Homo sapiens: one gene and its partners. The protein of the gene in region 3 interacts with the protein of the main gene of each other region in a pairwise test. Each region holds a gene or a part of one and is shown on either strand. Other genes may lie near its edges. The genes, in order: ZDHHC15, SEC22A and TMEM52B.

Evidence for each region.
Region 1: the proteins of TMEM52B (region 3) and ZDHHC15 interact in binary tests that used the Homo sapiens proteins (3 or more experiments, as listed by UniProt).
Region 2: the proteins of TMEM52B (region 3) and SEC22A interact in binary tests that used the Homo sapiens proteins (3 or more experiments, as listed by UniProt).

The regions. Positions count from the first base shown.
Region 1 is NC_000023.11:75,516,355-75,520,109, reverse strand, and holds part of ZDHHC15 (palmitoyltransferase ZDHHC15), read left to right. Parts: intron 1-3,755. UniProt on the Homo sapiens protein: Palmitoyltransferase that catalyzes the addition of palmitate onto various protein substrates.
Region 2 is NC_000003.12:123,204,883-123,208,637, forward strand, and holds part of SEC22A (vesicle-trafficking protein SEC22a), read left to right. Parts: intron 1-1,418; exon of another isoform or gene 1,419-2,225; intron 2,226-3,755. UniProt on the Homo sapiens protein: May be involved in vesicle transport between the ER and the Golgi complex.
Region 3 is NC_000012.12:10,176,887-10,180,641, reverse strand, and holds the start of TMEM52B (transmembrane protein 52B isoform 2 precursor), read right to left. Parts: upstream 1,611-3,755; 5' UTR 1,068-1,610; coding exon 1,014-1,067; intron 1-1,013.

The DNA of each region.
Region 1 (3,755 bases), on a different chromosome or scaffold from region 3:
CTGAGGAACAGACAGAATAAGTAGCTTACCTAAGGTCACAGAGCTAGTAAATGGCCAAACTTAAAACCCAGGCAGTATGTTGCCACAGTCTCCTCTAAACTAATGCAGAGGTAAAAACTTTGTGACATACAAGCCAGATGTAGCCTTCAGATATATTTTGCCTGGCCTGCACAGTGTTTTCTTAACATTTTGCATCAGTTCCCATTATTTAAAAGTCAGGAGAATAAGGCAGCTTTGACTTTCAACTCTGGCTGAACCAGTCCCTCCTGCCATCATCAGTTTAACAATCTTGTAACAAATTAGCAACCTGGGTTTTGGAAAGGTTAAATCAAATTTTCCTAAGGCCACACATTTAGTAATAGTGAAGAGTTGGAAATCCAGGCTGCCTGATACCAAGGCCATACCTTTTCCAACACAAATAAATTAACAAATTTGCATTTCAATATGTCTCAAAAAGTAACATTAAGGACCTAACTTCTTTCCAGGGATAAAACCTGATGTCTTTCTCCCTAACGTTACATTAGAGCTGAAACCAAAAGAGATGTTTTTGTCCTTTAATTCTTAGAGTTTGAATTCTGCCATTTACTAGCCTGGAGACCTGGGGCAAGTAACTTCACTCTCTCAACCTCAGTTGTCTCACATGTACCTTGCTTCTACAGTTGTTCATCCATATGACAAATGGTTGCTTAGCACTCAGTATATGCCAGGTATTACTGCTGTGAGGCTCAAATAACATGATGCCTGAAAAGCATGCATCACAGTTCACAACACATTATAAGAGCTCATTAGATAGTAACTTGTGATTAGTAAAGAAATAAAGGATTCTTCCTGACCCAGGAAAATAAGAAGCTTAGCTTTTTAGAGAGGAGGGAAAGTAACAGTATCCATTTTATTGGGGTGAAATTTATATAACATAAAATTAACCATTTTTAAGTGTTCGCCTCAGTGCCATTTAGCACTCACAATGTTGTGCAGCCATCACCTCTATGTAGTTCCAAAATGTTTTTGTTATCCCATAAAGAAACCTCATAAGCATTAAGCAGTCACTCCCTGTTCCCTCTTCCCCCAAGTCCTAGCCAATTATTAATCTGCATTCTGTCTCTATGGATTTACCTATTATGGATGTTCCATATAAATAGAATCATAAAATATGTGTTCTTTTGTGTCTGACTTCTTCCAATTAACAAAATGTTTTTGAAATTGGTCCACATTATATTATGTAACAGTAATTTATCCCTTTTAATGGCTGAATAATAGTCTATTGTGTGTGTGTGTGTGTGTGTGTGTGTGTGTGTGTGTGTGTATATATATATATATATATATATATATATATATATATACCAGTTTGTTATCCATTCATCCATTAATGGCCATTTGGGCTATTTCTACCTTTTGTCTCTTCTGAATAGTGCTGTTACAAACATTCATGTATTTGTTTGAATATCTGTCTTCAATTATTTTGAGTATATACACCAGGGAGATGGATGGGGATAATTGGACTGTATGGTAATTCTATGTTTAACTTTCTGAGGAACCTCCAAACTATCTTCCGCAGTGACTGCACCATTTTACATTCCCATCAAGCAGCACAGAAGGGTTCCAATTTGTCCACATTCTCACCAAGACTTGTTATTTTCAGTTTTATTTTTATTATAGCCATCTTACTGGGTGTGAAGGGGTATCTCATTATGGATTTGATTTGTATTTCCATAATGAAAAAAATATTGAGTATCTTTTTATGTACTTGTTTGCCATCCATATATCTTCTTTGGGAAAATGTCTATTCAAGCCATTGTCCATTTTTTAAATGGGATTTTTAAATTGGGTTGTCTTTTTGTTGTTGAATTTTAATATTTTTTGCATGTTCTGAATACTTGATCTTTATCAGATACGTTATTTGCAAACATTTTCCCCCATACTTGATAGTATCATTTTATACACAAAGATTTTTAATTTTAATAAAATTCAATTTATCTATTTTTTCTTTTGTTGCCTATGCTTTTGGTGTCATATTTAAGAATCCATTACCAAATGCAAGAGCATAAAGATTTACCCCTGTGGGATTTTTTTGTTTGGTTGGTTGGTTGGTTGGTTTTGGTTTTTTGTTTGTTTGTTTGTTTTTTGTTTTTTTTTGTTTTTGTTTTTGATACGGGACCTCACTATGTTGCCCAGGCTGATCTCAAACTCCTGGGCTCAAGTGATCCTCCCACCTTAGCCTCTCAAATAGCTGGGGCTACAGGCGTGTGCCCTGTGTTTTCTTATAATAATTTTATACTTTTAGCTCTCACCTTTAGGTATTTTAGCCATTCTGAGTTAATTTTTTATATCTGGCATAAGATACGAGTCCAGCTTTTTTTTAAAATTTTATTATTATTATACTTTAAGTTTTAGGGTACGTGTGCACAACATGCAGGTTTGTTACATATGTATACATGTGCCATGTTGGTGTGCTGCACCCATTAACTCCTCATTTAACCTTAGGTATTTCTCCTAATGCTATCCCTCCCCCCTCCCCCCACCCCACGACAGGCCCCCGTGTGTGATGTTCCCCACCATGTGTCCAAGTGTTCTCATTGTTCAATTCGCACCTATGACTGAGAACATGCAGTGTTTGGTTTTCTGTCCTTGCGATAGTTTGCTGAGAATGATGGTTTCCAGCTTCATCCATGTCCCTACAAAGGACATGAACTCATCCTTTTTTATGGATGCATAGTATTCCATGGTGTATATGTGCCACATTTTCTTAATCCAGTCTATCATTGATGGGCATTTGGGTTGGTTCCAAGTCTTTGCTATTGTGAATAGTGCCGCAATAAACATACTTGTGCATGTGTCTTTATAGTAACATGATTTATAATCCTTTGGGTATATTCCCAGTAATGGGATCTCTGGGTCAATTAGTATTTCTAGTTCTAGATCCTTGAGGAATCACCACACTGTCTGCCACAATGGTTGAACTAGTTTACACTCCCACCAACAGTATAAAAGTGTTCCTATTTCTCCACATCTTCTCCAGCACCTGTTGTTTCCTGACTTTTTAATGATCGCCATTCTAACTGGTGTGAGATGGTATCTCATTGTGGTTTTGATTTGCATTTCTCTGATGGCCAGTGATGATGAGCATTTTTTCATGTATCTTTTGGCTGCATAAATGTCTTCTTTTGAGAAATGTCTGTTCATATCCTTTGCCCACTTTTTGATGGAGTTGTTTGATTTTTTCTTGTAAATTTGTTTGAGTTCTTTGTAGATTCTGGATATTAGCCCTTTGTCAGATGTGTAGATTGTAAAAATTTTCTCCCATTCTGTAGGTTGCCTGTTCACTCTGATGGTAGTTTCTTTTGCTGTGCAGAAGCTCTTTAGTTTAATTAGATCCCATTTGTCTATTTTGGCTTTTCTTGCCATTACTTTTGGTGTTTTAGTCATGAGGTCCTTGCCCATGCCTATGTCCTGAATCGTATTGCCTGGGTTTTCTTGTAGGGTTTTTAAGGTTTTAGGTCTAACATTTAAGTCTTTAATCCATCTTGAATTAATTTTTGTATAAGGTGTAAGGAAGGGATCCAGTTTCAGCTTTCTACATCTGGCTAGCCAGTTTTCCCAGCACCATTTATTAAATAGGGAATCCTTTCCCCATTTCTTGTTTTTGTCAGGTTTGACAAAGAGCAGATGGTTATAGATATGTGGTATTATTTCTGAGGGCTCTGTTCTGTTCCATTGGTCTATATATCTTTTTTGGTACCAGTACTATACTGTTTTGG
Region 2 (3,755 bases), on a different chromosome or scaffold from region 3:
TCCCATGCAATTGTTGTAATCTCTTGCTTTCCACAGTTCCACTGGTTCTTCCTTGGGATTTTCCCAACCACAACCCTCCTTAAGACCTTAAAGATACTTTAACCTAGCTTAGGCCTGACATGGACAGATTTCCTTTTCTGCTAGCACAGTCCAGATAAGATTAGTTTAAAAAAAAACAAACTATATTATGAATCCGTGGTAAAAAGAAAAAAAGTAGGGGTATGTTTATTGAATTGATGGAGAGACAGCTTAGCCTAAGGTGGTTGGAATCTGTCTACAAATTAGTTAAGCCTGACGTTGATCATTGGACATTCATCCCCGTTTGTCAGGCTTAAATTCAAGTGCTTTGGATGCTGAATCAAATTACTGTGGTAGAAAGAGGTTTAATTTTTTCCCTAAGAAAAATCTTATCTATGGATAAGTAGAAACCATTCTCTGACAACCTTGTAATAATTTTGACAGGGAATGTAACTACTGTGTTCTGCTTTTGGTTAAAGGCTAAAGTACATATTAGGAAAATTTGAGGCTGGGCGCAGTGGCTCACACCTGTAATCCCAGCACTTTGTGAGGCCGACGCAGGTGGATCACTTGAGGTCAGAATTTGAGACCAGCCTGGCCAACACAGTTAAGCCCCATCTCTACTAAAAATACAAAAATTAGCCAGGCATGGTGGCGGGCACCTGTAATCCCAGCTACTTGGCAGGATGAGGCAGGGGAATCGCTTGAACCTGGGAGGCAGAGGTTGCAGTGAGCCATTGCACTCCAGCCTGGGCAACAGAGTGAGACCCTGTTTCAAAACAAAACAAAACAAAACAAAAAAACAACAAAAAAAGGAGTATTTGAAATGTAAGTTTGTCCAACTTTAGTTTTCCAGTTAGTGAAGTGGTGGGCAACACACCTGCATTGTTTGCTCTTTTCAACTGAGTTTCTCTAATTGAGGAGTGATGTTTCTTGATGGTAGGACTCTTCATTCCTGCTATCTGGCATAATTCATGGGACACATTAGATATTCAGTAAATGTTTGGTAAACGAATGGAACTTACAAATTGTATTCTTTTTACAGTATGTGTTTTAGAAAGCATGGATCATATATTTATTGATCTGTCCTCCAAGTCACTAAAGAATAACTTTGAAGACTACATGAAATTTGGCAACCTATTAATGAAGTCTATTCATAATATTTCTATTAGGATCCTAGAGAGGCCAGACATAAAATAATACAGTCTACTTTTATTTTACTTTTTGAGACAGGATCTCTCTCATCACCCAGGTTGGACTGCAGTGGCACAATCATAGCTCACCATTGCCTTGAACTCCTGGGCCTGCTTCAGCCTCCCCAAAGCAAGTACTATAGGCGTGTGCCACCATGCCCAGCTGATTTTTAATTTTTTTTATAGAGACAGAGCCTCACCATGTTTCTAGGTTGGTCTTGAACTCCTGGCCTCAAGCAGTGTTGGGATTATGGGTATAAGCCATGGCACCCCATCCAATCTGCTTTTAAATACTAAAATGTGGGTATTTAGAACTGCAAGTTACAACTCACCCTCAAATTAATTCCCAGAATGGTTATTGTGTTGCAGTGTACTTCTGGAAAGACAACAGTTTTATAGTTAAATAATAAACGCTTAAGGGGATAGAGTAAGACATTTTCCTACTTTCTTACACTTAGGCTAAATGTTACAATTGTGATTTAATAATTAAGTAAAACATGGTAAAAAAAAAATTAAAGAGGGGTTTATAGTATAGATATCTCTTCAGGGATCCCAACTTTTTCATGCTACTGCTTTTAGGAGAGAAAAAAACTAGATGAATGGAAAAAAACACCAATTGGGATATGTCACACTGGGACTTCAGTTTGAAGACTCCACTGTAGTAAAAAGACTAATTTGCTTCTGGATATTTTTCTCTTTAAATGAATGGAGAGGCTGGGCGTGGTAGCTCATGCCTGTAATCCTAGTACTTTGGGAGGCTGAGGTGGACAGATCACTTCAGGCCAGGAGTTTGAGACCAGCCTGGCCAACATGGCGAAACCTCATCTCTACTGAAAATACAAAAATGAGCTGGGTGTTGTGGCGCATGCCTGTAATCCTAGCTACTCGCGAGGCTGAGGCATGAGAATTGCTTGAATCTGGGAGGTGGAGGTTGCAGTGAACTGAGATCGCACCACTACACTCGTCTGGGTGACACAGTGAGACCCTGTCTCTGAAGGAGAAAAATATTAAAGGGTAATGACACAGTAACACCTAGAGATTTCTCCTTTTTCCTCATGAAAAGAGGAAAAAGGGATAGTGAACTTAATGCATTAGATTTATTAGTTGGGTTAATTTTTATTGTCAGATCAGTTATCACCATGAATGGGAAGTCATATTTTGACTTCACACAGCAGTGAAAACTATCAGCTCCTGATTTACAAGCTTTGTAACAACTGGTTTTCTGTGGTATTTTTTTTTATATATATTACTCATTTTTTCCTTTTTGGAATGAGATAATATTGACCTAGATTAAGTGGGCAGGTAAGGATTAATTTAGTCTCTAAGATACAATATTTTTGGAAAAATGCCTGTGAGATTTTTATCAGATTTTTGAATTTTCACCAGTTGCCTCACCACTAGTGAGGAAGCCTTTAGTGACATTGTGCTTTGATGGCCTGACAGAGAAGAGTTATCACTTAATCTTAGATAGTGAACATGTTTTAATTTAATGTTTTAAAAAGTATGGGCCTTAGACAATAAGCAAATTGTCAAGCCCTATCCCACAGTCAGTGGTTCAGAATTTTGAGGGCAGAGCTCAGAAATCTGCATTTTTAACTAAACTTTCAACTTCTTATGCAAGCTAAAGTTTGAGAGCCACTGTGTATTTTATGAAAGGTTGAGTGACTGTTGACCTGAGTTCCTTCAGACTCAGGCCTGTGAAGTCCTTTCATCTGTTTTTGTAAAGCAAGAAGAGAATCCAATAAAATAGGCCATTAAGATTTACTTTCTGGTAAAAAGATTGAGAACAACATTAAAACCAATATTCCTTTAGCTTTAGGATTTATTTTAAATAATTTTTTTCTGATTATAAAAGTAGTATATGTCTACTGTGAATATTGAGAACATTTAGGAAATTATAAAATAATAATAACCAATAATACCATTTCTTAGAGGTGAGCATATTCTTAATTTGGCATCTTTTTCTGCATCCGTTTTTCAATCCCTTTTTCCTTCTCTTTATCTTCGTCTCTTTATCCTTATGTTTGTGTAAAACAACATTTGCAATTTTTATCCTACTTTTTTCTCCTTAACATGTAAGCATTTTACCACATTATTAAACTTTCTCCACAAACATAACTTTTAGTTGCTGCATTATATTCTGTTATATGAATATACTATAATTTACTTAACCATCACCATTTTATAGGATATTTAGATTGCTTTCAGTTATTTGAGTGGAAGAATGTCTTTCTGTTTAAAATTTTGCCTGGATTTCTGATTATTTTTCTCAAGACAGGTATATATTTAAATTTATTGAGGTTAAAAGGTATGCCTTCAGACTCTTGTTGAAATTGCCAAATCATTTTGAGAACTGTTTGTACCAGTTTTTACTTCCATCTGTACTTATGAGAATGCCAGACAGAAGTATTATTTTTTAAAAAGCTAATGTGGCTGGGTGTGGTGGCTCATGCCTGTAATCCCAGCACTGTGGCAGGCGCCTATAGTCCCAGCCACATCCTATGCTGTGGCATGGGAACCCAGGCTGAGGCATGAGAATTGCTT
Region 3 (3,755 bases):
CATTCTCAAGACCTATCAGTTGGAAAGGATCTGTAAAAGGATTAATGGCCAGCCTTTGCAGGTAACATTTGAGAAACCCGTGTTTGTGTTTTCATTGGAAAGAAATGGCCACTAACGATGAAAAAGCGTGTGTTTCCTCTACGCAACCATGGTACTTTCTTTCACTTTCTTCACTAAAGGTAAGAGAAGCCTAAAGTGCTCAGCAGAGAAAATGCTACTTTTCAGGCTTGTTGCAAAGAGAAAAGAAAGGAAAAATGAAGGGAAGACAAGGCAAAGGGAGTGAAGAGGAAGCAAAAAGAAAATATAAGAAAAAATGGATTTTCAGATACCACTTTAACTGTTCTATTAGCAAAAAAAAAAAAAAAACAAACCATACAGCCCACTCTGTACGGGGGCCATACGGGAATCTGAGACTATCCAGTTTTCTTCATTTGCTCTCCTTCTTGCTAGATGGCATAGCTCTATAAACTTCCCTGTGACAATTGTTTAGAATCCCTCAGTCCAGTGACCCTTTTCTCCACTAATGGATTACTCAGAGACTTCTGATTCATTGTGGGGCCCAAAATATTTTAAAAGAGCCCTGCCTCTCTTATTTCTAGACTAGAGGCACCTAAACTGCTAGAACAGGATTAGAAATTCCTGGATGGGAAATTCCGTTTAGGGGAATTACACACCTAGTTTTCATAATTTGTTTGGAATTTTGAGGGATGGGTGATAAGATGCTAAAAGAGATAAAATACTTCAGCGGCACTTCTAAAGTGCCACGGCAATCCTGCTCGTTTCCATGCTCACTCTAATTTCTGTCCCCCTTTTCATTGTCATTGCCATCAGTCACACATGCATCTATGCAATCTCGTAATACTAAGGAAACTTTGTAGTTTATTCATTTCCCTATGACCCCCTGGGTTCTGTATATGTCTCCCCACCCCGCAGTTCATTTCCTTTCAGACTCTTCTGAGAGTTGATTAATCTGGGGAAAAATACTCTTTCTGCCTTTTCACCACTGAACTCACCAGGATGAAATACAGCAGGGCTGAGGCCGCCACGACATGAACTCGGACTCCCATCGGGCTGAATTCCTGCTTCTTCAGAATCTTGCACTGGGCATCCGTTGCCTCCTTTCAATGCTCTGTGCCATATTTTACTTCTTGACCTAGAATTCTTAAGAAGAGAAACTTTTCTCAGGAATTTATCAGCTTTTCTCTCTCTCGTTCTCTCTGTCTCCTCCTACTCGCTCTGGCTGTTATTTTCTATGGCTTTTCCCTCTTCTTTCCTGTTTTTCTTCTTTATTCTTATTACTATTTCTATGGCCTCCACATTTACTTCCTTTTGCCTTCTTTCTTTCCGTTACACTATTAATTCTTTCTACATCTTGAAGTTTCTTTCTCCTACTGCTCCCAAAAAGGAGACATTCAAAGAGGACATATGTGTCCTCTGAATGAAGTATTTTTCTAGACAGCGATGAAAAACTTGGCTTTGAGGATGGTCAAAGGCAGATTGCTGGTGACCAAATATATTCCTTTCTTCATCAGAAAACTGGTAATATTCTTGATCCTTCACCAGAGTACTCCAGCGTGACTGTTGCAGGGTGAAAGTCACCCTGCTAATCTCCTTTCTTCTCTCTCCGTGTGACTAACAACCCCTTCTTGCTCTTTGAAACCCTCCCCTTCACTATGTTGATAATCAACTCTCCTGGTTCTGGGTCATTTATATCCCTAAGCATTGGGGTAAGACTGAGAGGTTGCCAAGTGAACAGGAAAGCCATCTCATCTTTGGAGAAAACAGACTTGAAGATGAGAAATCAAGTCGGAAGATTAGAATTTTCAGGTGTTATCAGTGACATCTTCCTCCTCCCTGACTTCACTTCCCATTGAAATAGATAACTGAGAAAGACATTTTTTTAAAACCAAATTTTAAAAAAGCAAATGTATAGGTTTCTTTCTTTCTTGCCTTTTCTTTGTTCCTTCTTTCTCTCTCTTTCTCTCTCTCTCTCTCTCTTTGGTTAAGGAGTGATGTGATTGAGAAATAAGTCTTGTCACTCAGGAAAATAAAACCTAAGGTTAGAGTAAAAACAAGCACACATGCAAAAGCATAGAATACTTTTTTTTTTTTTTTTTTTGAGACGGAGTCTTGCTCTGTCACCCAGGCTGGAGTGCAGTGGCGCAATCTCGGCTCACTGCAAACTCTGCCTCCTGGGTTCATGCCATTCTCCTGCCTCAGCCTCCCGAGTAGCTGGGAATACTGGCGCCCACCACCACGCCCGGCTAAGTTTTTTTGTATTTTTAGTAGAGACGAGACGGGGTTTCACCATGTTAACCAGAATGGTCTCGATCTCCTGACCTCATGATCCGCCCGACTCGGCCTCCCAAAGTGCTGGGATTACAGGCGTGAGCCACCGTGCCTGGCCTAGAATACTTACAATGAAACAAAGCTATAGACACAAATGTGGCCGGGTGCCATGGCTCATGCCTGTAATCCCAGCACTTTGGGAGGCCAAGGCGGGCTGATAACTTCGGCCAGGAGTTTGAGACCAGCCTGGAGAACATGATGAAACCCTTTCTCTACGAAACATACAAAAATTAGCTGTGTGTCATGGCAGGCACCTGTAATCCCAACTACTTGGGAGGCTGAAGCAGGAGGGCCACTTGAACCCGGAAGGCAGAAGTTGCAGTGAGCCGAGATCACACCACTGCACTCCAGCCTGGGTGATAGAGCGAGAATCTGCCTCAAAAAAGCAAAATATTAAAAGAAACAAAAGAATGCTGTATGAATGATTTATACTTAAGTAGGTGATCTTTTACTTAATACCAAATGTTTAATAAAAAAATTATTATTATTATTATTATTATTATTATTATTATTATTATTATTATTTGAGACAGAGTCTCTCTGTCACCAGGCTGGAGGGCAGTGGTGCAATCTCGGCTCACTGCAACCTCTGCCTCCTGGGTTCAAGCAATTCTCCTGCCTCAGCCTCCTGAGTAGCTGGGATTATAGACACCTGCCACGACACCCAGCTAACTTTTCTATTTTCAGTAGAGACAAGGTTTTACCATATTGGCCAGGCTGGGATAAGAAAAGTAGAAGTTAGTTTACAGTGATATATCTATCTCATAAGAATTGAATAAAACCTCCTTTCAGGACCTTTCTAGCTCAGTAAATCTAATTATGCTGAGTGATTGTGGAAGGGAGACTCTTGGGTGAGCTGATCATACTCTAAGGGTCCTCACACATAGCTTGATGATGGGATATGAGAATGCAGGATATAAACTGGTTTTGTTCTCAGCTAAGGAAAACAAATAATGAGAAAATGGCCTGGTACCATACTGGTGATTTAAAATCTGTCAGTTTCAAGACGAAATGAGCACTGACAGTCTTTTATTTTTTATTTTTTTAAATTAGGCAACTGGGGTTAGGATGAAGGGTGATTTCCAGATTTCAGTAGAAGACTTGGCAAGGTGGAAGGTATTTTATAGGACAAGGAGAGCAGGGCTTTAGGTGGCCTTCCACTAAATTATTATGTAATTCCTCCAGTCCTTAACGTTCCCATTCATACAACAGGAGCAGAATACCCACTTGACCTGCTTTAGATGTTATTTCCTAGAGAAAATAAAATAAGAGACAGGAAAGCATTTTGAATAGGATATTTCTATCATGAGTGCCCTGTACGTAGGGAACCCATCATGAAACTTTCCCTTCTCTTTTTCTTGACAGAAAGACAGTAGAGCACCAAGACCTAAAGCCTAGCCAGGATA